Homo sapiens: one gene and its partners. The protein of the gene in region 3 purifies or fractionates together with the protein of the main gene of each other region. This does not show direct contact. Each region holds a gene or a part of one and is shown on either strand. Other genes may lie near its edges. The genes, in order: XPR1, PSMB7 and KIF5B.

Region 1 (3,657 bases), on a different chromosome or scaffold from region 3:
TATCCTTTGTTTAAATAGCAAGCTGTGATTCATGCATGACTAGTTACTCCTATTAGCAGAATGATTGCCCATTGAGTAGATATTTATTTGTGCATCTGCTGTGTTTTTGCTAATAAATGAGGACTTGTTGATGGAATAGGTTGACAATGGTATAAGCAGTAATAGAATAATAAAATGTACTATCAGATACACTGAAATATAGAAGGAATAATTTCCTTCTATATTTGTGGTTTGTTGTTTTTGTAGTAACTGTTATAAACAGAACAGTGTTATCATTTGTAGATAATTTTAGTATTAATTGACCTGCTGACTTATTTTAATTTAAATCTCACTGGGAAAACTTACCCTTAGACTGATTCCTAGTGAATTAACAAGAATGTGTTCACTCTAGTTATGTTTTTCTGATACCGCTTTTTAAAAGCTTCATCCTAAAGTAAAAGTACATTTCTTTCTTTTTTTCTTTAATTTTTTTTTTTTTTGAGACAGGGTCTGGCTCTATTGCCCAGGCTGAAGTGCAGTGGCGTGATCTCAGCTCACTGCAACCTCCACCTCCCAGGTTCAAGTGATCCTCCCACCTCAACCTCTCCAGTAGTTAGGACCACAGGTGTGTGCCAACGTGCCTGGCCAATTTTTTGTATTTTTGGTAGAGATGGGGTTTTGCCATGTTGCCCAGCTGGTCTCGAATTCCTGGGCTCAAGTCATCTGCCTGCCTTGCCTCCCAAAGTGCTGGGATTACAAGTGTGAGCCACCACACCCATCCTTTTCTTTAATTTTTAGTGAGAAAAGCACATAGGTCATAATGGTAGGCACTGGGTGCCATTTATATCCATATTTATATTGGAATCTATGGAATTGATATATGCTATGCTCCTAAAAACAAAGCTAAAAAAATTTATAAGAAATTGATTTATTTTGATATGAATATTGTATGTCAAATTAGTATAGATTATTTACATCCATTAGGTTATACTTTCTCTCCTTAAATCTATATTTACCTCAATCAGAAATCTAATTAGGTAGCATAAACAGTGCCTCAGATTTTCTAAACAAAAATATAAATTTTAACTCACTATATTAAAAGTAAGCTAATTAAAAATTTTAAATTATAGTCCTTTGTTACATAATTTAGACATCAGTTTTTACCAACAGTCTCTTTAGTTCTATAGTAAAAATTTTACACATTTCTATTATAAGAATAGAGAGGTGTTGTCATTTAGTAACTACTTTATGTATTTTAATTTTAAAAATAACCCACAAGTTGGAGCTGCTATTAATCCCTATTTTATAAATGAAGAAACCTACATTCAGAGAAGTTAATTAACTTGCCTAAGGTCACATAGCCAGTGAAGTGATGAAGATGAGTTATGAACCCAGGCAGTCGTTTATAATCTGTACTCTTAAACACTAACATTTAACACTTAGCCCTATTAGTCACTTATGTTAGATGTTTAACTTTGATCTAGTGGATCAAACTAGTAGAATATAAAAATCAAATTTGAGGCCAGGCACAGTAGCTCATGCCTGTAATCCTAGCACTTTGAGAGGCGGAGGTGGGAGGATCGCTTAAGCCCAGGAGTTCGAGACCAGCCTGGGCAACGTGGCAAAACCCTTTCTCTACAAAAAATGAAAAATTAGTGGGGCATGGTGGCACGCATCTGTAGCCCCAGTTACTTGGGAGGCTGAGGGAGGAGGATCGCTTGAGTCCAGCAGGTTGAGGTTGCAATGAGCTGAAATTGTACCACTGCACTCCATGAAAAGTAGAAATTAAAACTTCATCTTCTTAGCTATTTATCAGTATTAACTTAAAAGAGGATGTTAACATGTTCTTTGTAATAATTTAGTGGCTTTTTTGTGTAGGTGGTAAAATATCAGCTATCCAGAATTGTCTCTGGCTTTCATAATACTGTTACTCTAGGAATTGTCACTTTAATCAAAATCACAGGGTAGAAGTGGAGAAGTTGAAAGGCCTTATCCAGATTAAGAAGAGAAGGAGGAGTGAGTTACAGAATTCTCTCCCAGAAGGCGATATCAGATAAATCTAGAATGAATTTGACTGTGTGTAAATGTCAGTGAGTTGAGTATGATGTTTATGCTCTCCCTCTCACCCGGCCTCTGACAGAGTGACTTCTTCTTTTCTCTGTATTTCCAGGGTATTTTGTGTGTATCTCTATAATATGGTGCTATAATTATACCTTTATGTATTTATTTGCCCAACTAGACTGTGGATCATTAAGGCCTGTAAGCCGCAGTGCCTGACATTTAATAAATACTTGATAAGTCTTTGTTAAATACATGAATGACTGTAATTATATTCTTCCCTTCATTGGTTGTATTATATAACATTTACTACTCCCTTCTTTCTTCCTTTTTTCATTTTCTCTTTTTGTAAATTTTCCCTTCTTCCCAGTTTTTTTTTTAAATTTTCATGTCAGTCCTATCCTTTTTCAGTCCCATCCCACCATCCCTTTTTTCCTTATTTAATGCATTATCTCCCTCTTCTGCTCTTATGGAGATTTTCTGAATTAGCCAGGTTTTGAGGATGGGGTTGGCAGAGTATGAGAGTAATGATAGTCTGTCTCATGTCAGTTATAAAGAAATTTGTCCTAGGCTACCAGTTTCATAATAGTTCATGATTAGAGATGGATTTAGACTTCCTGATCTTTTGGTGTTATATCCTAAATTATTCTATATTTCTGTCACTTTGAATCCTTTAAGTCCATTCTGCACACTAGAGTTTCTTAAAATATTACAGAAACTGGTGCCAGAGCTTCTTCGTGCATAGATGACTACCATCCTACAGTCCCCCTCTTCCTCACAAAAAGTTTGCTTTATCGGGCGCTTATGGTTGCAAATGGTATAGATTGTCTCTCTGGTTTGTTGGACTCATGGAAAGATTATGAGAGTGGTTAAGAGACTGAGCCATGGAATGAAAGTATATCAGCACCAGAAAATAATGTCTCAAAGCCTGTATGATGTCCCACAGACACCTGGTCTAGCTTCCAAAGCTCCAAGAAAGTACCCGTCATAGGTAGTTGACATCCAGGATTGAGTCATAATGTGACCATTTATCTCCCTGACATAATAAAAATAAATATTTAGAGAAACAGAAGACAGATCCAGCCAAGTCTGAGAAGAGAGTTACAGATTCCCAAGTAGAATATGTCTATGAAATGAATATAACTAGATAATCAGAGCTAGAGATTAGATTCATTTTCTCAAAACTTCTACTTACTCAGAATTTCTTCTTTCAGGAGTCACATTTCCTACTGTATAAGATAGAAAGGGGTCCTTTAGGATGAGGATTAAGGCTTCCTTCATCCCATCTTCACTTCACACAGCGCTTATCAAGACAATCTGCACAATTTGAGCCTATTTCTGGTAATTGCATTGGTACCTACTTCCCTTCTCTGCAATGCCAAGATTTCCCTTTGTAGTGATAAACAGGCTTCCACAGAATATGTTAGGAAGAGTCTGTGTCGGTCTTCTGTAAAATGGGGATATGAATAGTTCCTAGCTCATGGAATTGTTATGAAGATGAGTTAATGCTTGCATAAAGCCTTGAGGAAAATACACTGCATGAGTTACTGCCCAATACATTTAATACATTTATCATGTGTTCAGAACAGTGGGAAGAGGGCTGATTTTTGTGGTATAATT
Region 2 (2,636 bases), on a different chromosome or scaffold from region 3:
GTGAAATGATCATGTCCTACTTATTACAAAACCGTAACCCCAAAACATTCCTTTTATTTCTGTGAAACCGGCCAAAGTGAGGTCCACCCACCTTCACACAGCTCTGGCGGTGCACCTGCTCACCTTCTCTTGGTTCTCAGAACTGAGCTGGGCTTGAGAACACAGCTTTGGCTTTGCCATTTTTTTCCTACTTGGCTGCTGAGGTGGAGGGTGTGCTGCACTTATCACCCCATTTCAAAACCAAACCAAACCTGAGGCCACCCCAAACAAATTCAGCCAGCAAAAAGGGTAGGTATCGATGGTCACCTGAAGCCTCAAGGGAGTCCACTCTGACTTCTGACAGCAGACAGAACCTATCTGTCCTCAGGAGGGGCGCATGGCTCCTACGCTCTCCTCTGAGCCTAGGCCAGTGCTCAAGGAGGATCAGCACCCTGAAGGGCCAGGCCAATGGCCTTAGCAGCCCCCTACTGCCCCCAAAAACACCACACAGTGCCCAGACCTCAGCTGCCCAATTTGGTTTTTGTTTTTTATTGAGTTGAGTTTCATTCGGCAAACACTAGCCACATGAGTGTCTTACTGGGCCTCAATGCTCACCACCTTCCAGAACCGCGGCCAGCCACCCACTGATGCCATTCAGGAAGTGTCCATTGTTTGGACTGTTTCTTCCAGCACCTCAATCTCCAGAGGAGTGATTTTCTCAGTGAGGACTGCAGTAGTCCCTTTCTCACACCTGTACCGGCCAAGCCTAGTAAGAGAAAAACAAAAGCACAGAGTTAGGATTCTCCTCAAGGTGCCAGAGGGCAGAAGACAGTGAAAATAAATATTCAGGCAACGCAGTGAGCAGGCTGGACTGGAATCTTGGCTCTCCCGATCCCAGCTCTGTGATCTTGGGGGATTCAACTTCCTCAGTTCTCAAGTGCTGCAAAATGGGGGTGCCTGGGAGGCAAAGAGTGTCATTAGTGAACACGGCACCTGGCCCTTGGTGGACACGTGACTCTCCCCCCACCCCACCATCCCCACAAGTGCTGGGAAGCACTTGGTCCCTTGACATCAATCTTCAACCTCCCTACAATACTGTTCAGGGACAGCAGGAAGCAAATCCCATCATTACACAAGAGAAGGGCATGATTGCTCTTCCGTGCAGCAACAAGAATGACTTAACTGTTACCTTAGACACTGCACAAACATCTGGAAGCATAAACAGTGTAAAAAAAATGTGCAGCCAGACTCTGGGCTTGTCATTTCAGACCACTCTCAAGTCTCAAGAAAAGTTAACTGTCCCTTTCAGGGACACAGTGGGTCCCCACTAGGACACACCCAACACCTTCTTCCTGGAGTGAATCTGGCAGAGGTTTCTTTGAGCACCAGACTGTCTAGAAGATATGTATTTGGGCTGTTAATGCTCACAGTGGGTCAGGAATTAGGATACTGTCAAATGGCAGCACACAACCAACTGTTCCTCTGCTCTAGCCCCAGCTGGGGTAATATCTCTGTCAAACTTGCTGTCCTTCAGGAACTGCCAGAAGGCTGCTGGCTGTGCCATGGCCTTGTGCTCCCGGAACACCCATCCTCTCCCCTGGACACACGGGCTAAAAGAGGGAGCAGGAAGCAGAACAAGGAGGGCAACTTCCACAGTTCTGCATCCAGGTCAGGAGCACGGTCAGCCCAGAGCGGCCTGCCTTTATGCTGCCAAGCCTCCCCCGACCCCCACCCTCTTAAAGAATCCAAGCAAAAGTACCTTTGAACAATGTGTCCCCACCCCATCAGTTTGAGGATGCCCCTCATCCCTCACACGCTGGAACCTTGGTGGCAGCGTGCAGTCTTAGAGCCAAAGTCCCACGTGGCCTCTGTGTGCCTGACTCCTCTGAACCACCCCTCAGTGTCTCCGGGAGGCTTGGACACACAAGAGCCTCCTCACCACTGTGGTGACAGTGCCCGATTTTTGCGGCATGCATTCAGAGCTTCCGCCTTACGTGCCAGTGGACTGCAAGACCGTGTGCTGGAGGGCTGCGGGCAGACAGGCAGCAGGGACTTGCCAGGCAAGGCCCACTGGCGCATGGCACGGGATGCTTCCTCAGGCCTATCGCCCTGCCCGCACCCTAGCATCCACCCTGGGAAGGGCTCCCCTAACTCAGGCAGTGCCCCCATCTTCAGTCACTGGCAAAGAAGACAACAGAGTCCAGGGAGCTTGGACACTTGCTGCCCTTGGCCCCAGGACACCGATGGGGAGCAGGCTCCCTGCAGGTTACTGCACACCCACCACACGCCCAGCAGCTTCTGGGTCGCCTTGCTGATTCTTCCCAAGCAGCCGCAAGGCGGTTTTCTTTTGTTCTTGGGTGTTTAGAGCCTCTGTTTACAAGTGGAGCAGCCCATGTCCCAGGAAGTAGGATGTGCCACTGCTGCACTCCCTGTGGATGAGGACTCCTGCGCTCAGCACAGGTTCCCTAGGCAACCACTTCTCACTGGCCCAGACGTGGCTTTCAGAGTCCTCGCCCAGGACCCTGGCCAGCCTGAATGGTGTAACCATTCCCTACCCCATCACCGCTTCACCATGGACTTGCTCAAATCACGCATCTTGCAAAATAACCAGCGAAGCAGGCTACATGGAGTACTTGGCTCCTGCCTACCTGGAGCTC
Region 3 (3,657 bases):
ACCGAAGCAGTCTTTGTCTTCACCCTGCCCACCACCCCCACAAAAAAATTTAAAGGACTGCTTTTCAATTATCCCCCTGCTCTGCTGGGTGAGAAGATAAAATGAGGATCCAAAGTAAGTGACAAGAAGAGAAATGTCAAGAACCAGGGTGAAAAAAAAGATGGCGGAAATGAACAACAGATTGTATCTGGGTAGATACGATGAATAAGTAAAAATTCACTTTATCCATGTGACATTCTTATTCCCACAAAGACAGTCATACCCAAAATTATACAACTATTAAAGACAAAGTCAATGGGATTCAGAAAACAAAACTATAAAGCTTTTCTGGAAGCAATGTAAAAGGTATTCAACTCACCTCCTCCTGATCCAACATTTGCGTCTTCAGTTTCTCTACCAGTTGACTTTGCTGGTTAATTTCTTCATCCTAGAATTGTGAAGTATCCGGTTAACCAGTAGCTAACAACCTGGTTCTAGTTGTTTCCCAATACAGGTTATAAGATTACTACTCCCCAGAAATATTTCAAAACCATTTCTCTAAATTCAACATTGCTTATTTTAATCTCTTTTAAGAAAATGGCAAAACAAAAGGAATTTCTTTCAATTATCAATACTTATAATGGTCATGTACTTCGAACCTGCCATCTCTGCTTAAAATATATTAAAAATATCAACTTAAGAAAATATTTTCTTCTAATCTCTTTACTACTCTTGTTCTTGCCTTCCATTCTATTACGTTCTTAGTTTGCTATTATTCATACTATTGACATTACTTCTATATGCAAAGCAGGAAGATATTATTTCCACTCTATTGTGTTTCCCTTAATCTCTCACATCATCTTTTATTGGAGTCTTCAGAGCCCTGATTCTAACAATTGGTATCATTGAGGCTCCCAATGACCCAATGCCAAATTTTCATTAGAACAGGGGTCCCCAAGCCCCCAGGCCACAAAGCAGTACTGGAAGCCTGTTAGGAACCAAGAAGCACAGCAGGAGGTGAGCAGCAAGCATTACCACTTGAGCTCCGCCTTCTGCCAGATCAGCAGCATTAGAATATCATTAAGAGCGCGAACTCTATTATCAGCTGTGCATGCAAGAGATCTAGGTTAGAGGATCCTTATGAGAATCTAATGCCTGATAATCCAAGGTGGAAGTTTCATCCCAAAACCATCTCCCCGACCTGATCCACGGAAAAACTGTCTTCCCTGAAACCAGTCCCTGGTGCCAAAAAGGTTGGGGACTGCTGCCTTATAAAGTTCTTTTAGCTTAAAAAGAGGGGGAAGAAAAGATACATGCTCATACAGTTTCCACACAGAAATTGAAATTATGACTTTTTATTTTGTTAATACAATAATTTTTACAAGATTAACAGAAATCAAGGAAGATGCATAAAGATCCTAAGTGCCCACAGCACTGAAATGAGAAAAGTTAGAAAATAAAAACACCCATGTCAATAGTATCCTAATATAAAGCAGACCTAAATCAAGCAATACCTACCTTGTCATCAAGCTGTTTGTATAATTTAGCAATTTCTTCTTCACACTTTCTTCTTTCAGCATCAGTAAAATTTCCTATAACTCCAATTGCGGTTGCTGGTTTATCATTGGTAAGAGTAATATCTTTATCCACTGTGAAAGCTTCCAAGTTGGCTTTCTCTTTGTCAAACTGTTCATCAATAGGCACCGTCTCCCCTAAAATAAGAAAATAAAGTGGTTAATAAAAAAACGACGTCTAAAGCTAATTTCAATTTCATTCCTTTAAAAATTTTTTTTTTTTTTTTTGAGACAGAGTCTCAATCTGTCACCCTGGCTGGAGTGCAGTGGTGCAATCTAGGCTCACTGCAACCTCTGCCTCCAGGGTTCAAGCAATTCTACTGCCTCAAGACTCCTGATTAGCTGGGATTACAGGCGCTCAGCACCATGCCAGGCTAATTTTGGTGTTTTCAGTAGAGATGGGGTTTCAACATGTTGGCCAGGCTGGTCTCTAACTCCTGACCTCAAGTGATCTGCCCACCTTGGCCTCCCAAAGTGCTAGGATTACAGGCATGAGCCAGTGCACCCAGCCTCGTTCTTTCAAACTTTTTCTTCTCTGTGTTATTTTCAAATAATCTGTCTTCAAGTTCAGATTCTTCTGCTTAATTAATTCTACTACTGATGGTCTCTTGCATTTTGCTCATTTTATTTTTCAGCTCCAGGATTTCTATTAATTTTTTTAAAAATTATTTCGATGTCTATTAAATTTCTTGATCTAGTCACTTACTGATTTTGCTGAACTATTTCTACGTTTCTATGCTCTAAATCTGTATTTAACAAACTGAAGATGACAAATTCTTAAGTTATTACCATTACGCCATCTGTTGAGCTCATTTTCAAGCCACTGAATAGTGTTCCGCAGGATCTTATTTTTTTCTTTTTCTTTTTCATACTTCTTTTTCCACTGTTCTGCAGTTAACTCCACATTGACACAAACTGTGTTCTTAATTGTTTTGGCCCTAAGAGATGTAATTGGAGGAAAAAAAGGATGAGACTGAAATTATTTTTAATTTTATCTATATGGAATATATGTATATATGGCTAAGAAACTTATGCTTGTCCAGTAATCTCTTAGACTAAATACTAAAAGCCGCAACATATGACGTTATTTACAACTCAACTAAATTTGAGTCTGCTCCAAAATCTGTGAATAGCTTTAAAAAAAAAAAAATCAACAAACCACTAAAAATAAAAGACAAAGGCCTATATTTTTCCAATTTGTTTGCAAGGCTGAATTAAGAAATTACTGTTGAAAGTCAAAGACGGAATCATCATTACTGATTTTCCTAATCATCTCATACAGATTATATTAACCTGTCATGCATGTCTACAGGCTTAACAGAGGATTATGTTTGCCAGGCTTTGACCTCATTATTTGATTCAAATGCTTATTTTCTTTAATACCAAATTACAGCTTGTCACACAAATTTGACTAAAATTACATCTGACTTTAATGTGTACTAAAACTTAAACCAAGCAGTCTAAAAATCAGACCCACCTTGTATTATCTGTCATCAATTCAAACTGAGTGTGTCTAGCACAAAACAGTATGTACAGGTTGGAATAACAGCTCACATTTTCCTACATTTTATAAACAAAAGGTCTATCTAAATTTAGGTTTTGTACTTTCTTAACAACAAACCTTTGGCCAAATAAGAGTGTAGATTTTGTTTCAGACTCATTGTATGATGATGGAGAGCAGCAAATTACAATAGTGGTTCTACAGTTGCCACCTAATGAATCTTGAAGGATTCTTGTCATTTTACTATCTCGATATGGAACATATGTCTGCATACAAAAACAAAGAAAGAAAACAAGACCAGTATAATAAAATGTTATTATAAAATAAACTCCCAAAAGACAACTAACTTACACATACTGATTCAAACACATTGAATCTCAATCTCTCTTTCTCTCTCTCTCTCTCATACACACCCAGGCACACATATACACCTATATTTAAATAATGCCCCATAAGGTAACAGGGAGATAGAAGACATGTATACTCACACTACCCTCAGCCAAAGCAGAAATAACATTTCCAAGAGCAGAAAGTGACTTGTTGATGTTTTTAGCTTCATCCAGCACAGCACCTTCAGCTCCAGTTTTACTAACCTATACATAA

Evidence for each region.
Region 1: the proteins of KIF5B (region 3) and XPR1 purify together in Homo sapiens (affinity purification with mass spectrometry; 2 studies listed by BioGRID and IntAct, with this or other methods). This does not show direct contact.
Region 2: the proteins of KIF5B (region 3) and PSMB7 fractionate together in Homo sapiens (co-fractionation; 2 studies listed by BioGRID). This does not show direct contact.

What each region holds. Positions count from the first base shown.
Region 1 is NC_000001.11:180,827,416-180,831,072, forward strand, and holds part of XPR1 (solute carrier family 53 member 1), read left to right. Parts: intron 1-3,657. UniProt on the Homo sapiens protein: Inorganic ion transporter that mediates phosphate ion export across plasma membrane.
Region 2 is NC_000009.12:124,352,965-124,355,600, forward strand, and holds the end of PSMB7 (proteasome subunit beta type-7 precursor), read right to left. Parts: exon of another isoform or gene 746-2,636; coding exon 634-745; 3' UTR 501-633; downstream 1-500. UniProt on the Homo sapiens protein: Component of the 20S core proteasome complex involved in the proteolytic degradation of most intracellular proteins. This complex plays numerous essential roles within the cell by associating with different regulatory particles.
Region 3 is NC_000010.11:32,032,348-32,036,004, forward strand, and holds part of KIF5B (kinesin-1 heavy chain), read right to left. Parts: intron 3,648-3,657; coding exon 3,543-3,647; intron 3,321-3,542; coding exon 3,175-3,320; intron 2,492-3,174; coding exon 2,343-2,491; intron 1,692-2,342; coding exon 1,498-1,691; intron 428-1,497; coding exon 359-427; intron 1-358. UniProt on the Homo sapiens protein: Microtubule-dependent motor required for normal distribution of mitochondria and lysosomes. Can induce formation of neurite-like membrane protrusions in non-neuronal cells in a ZFYVE27-dependent manner.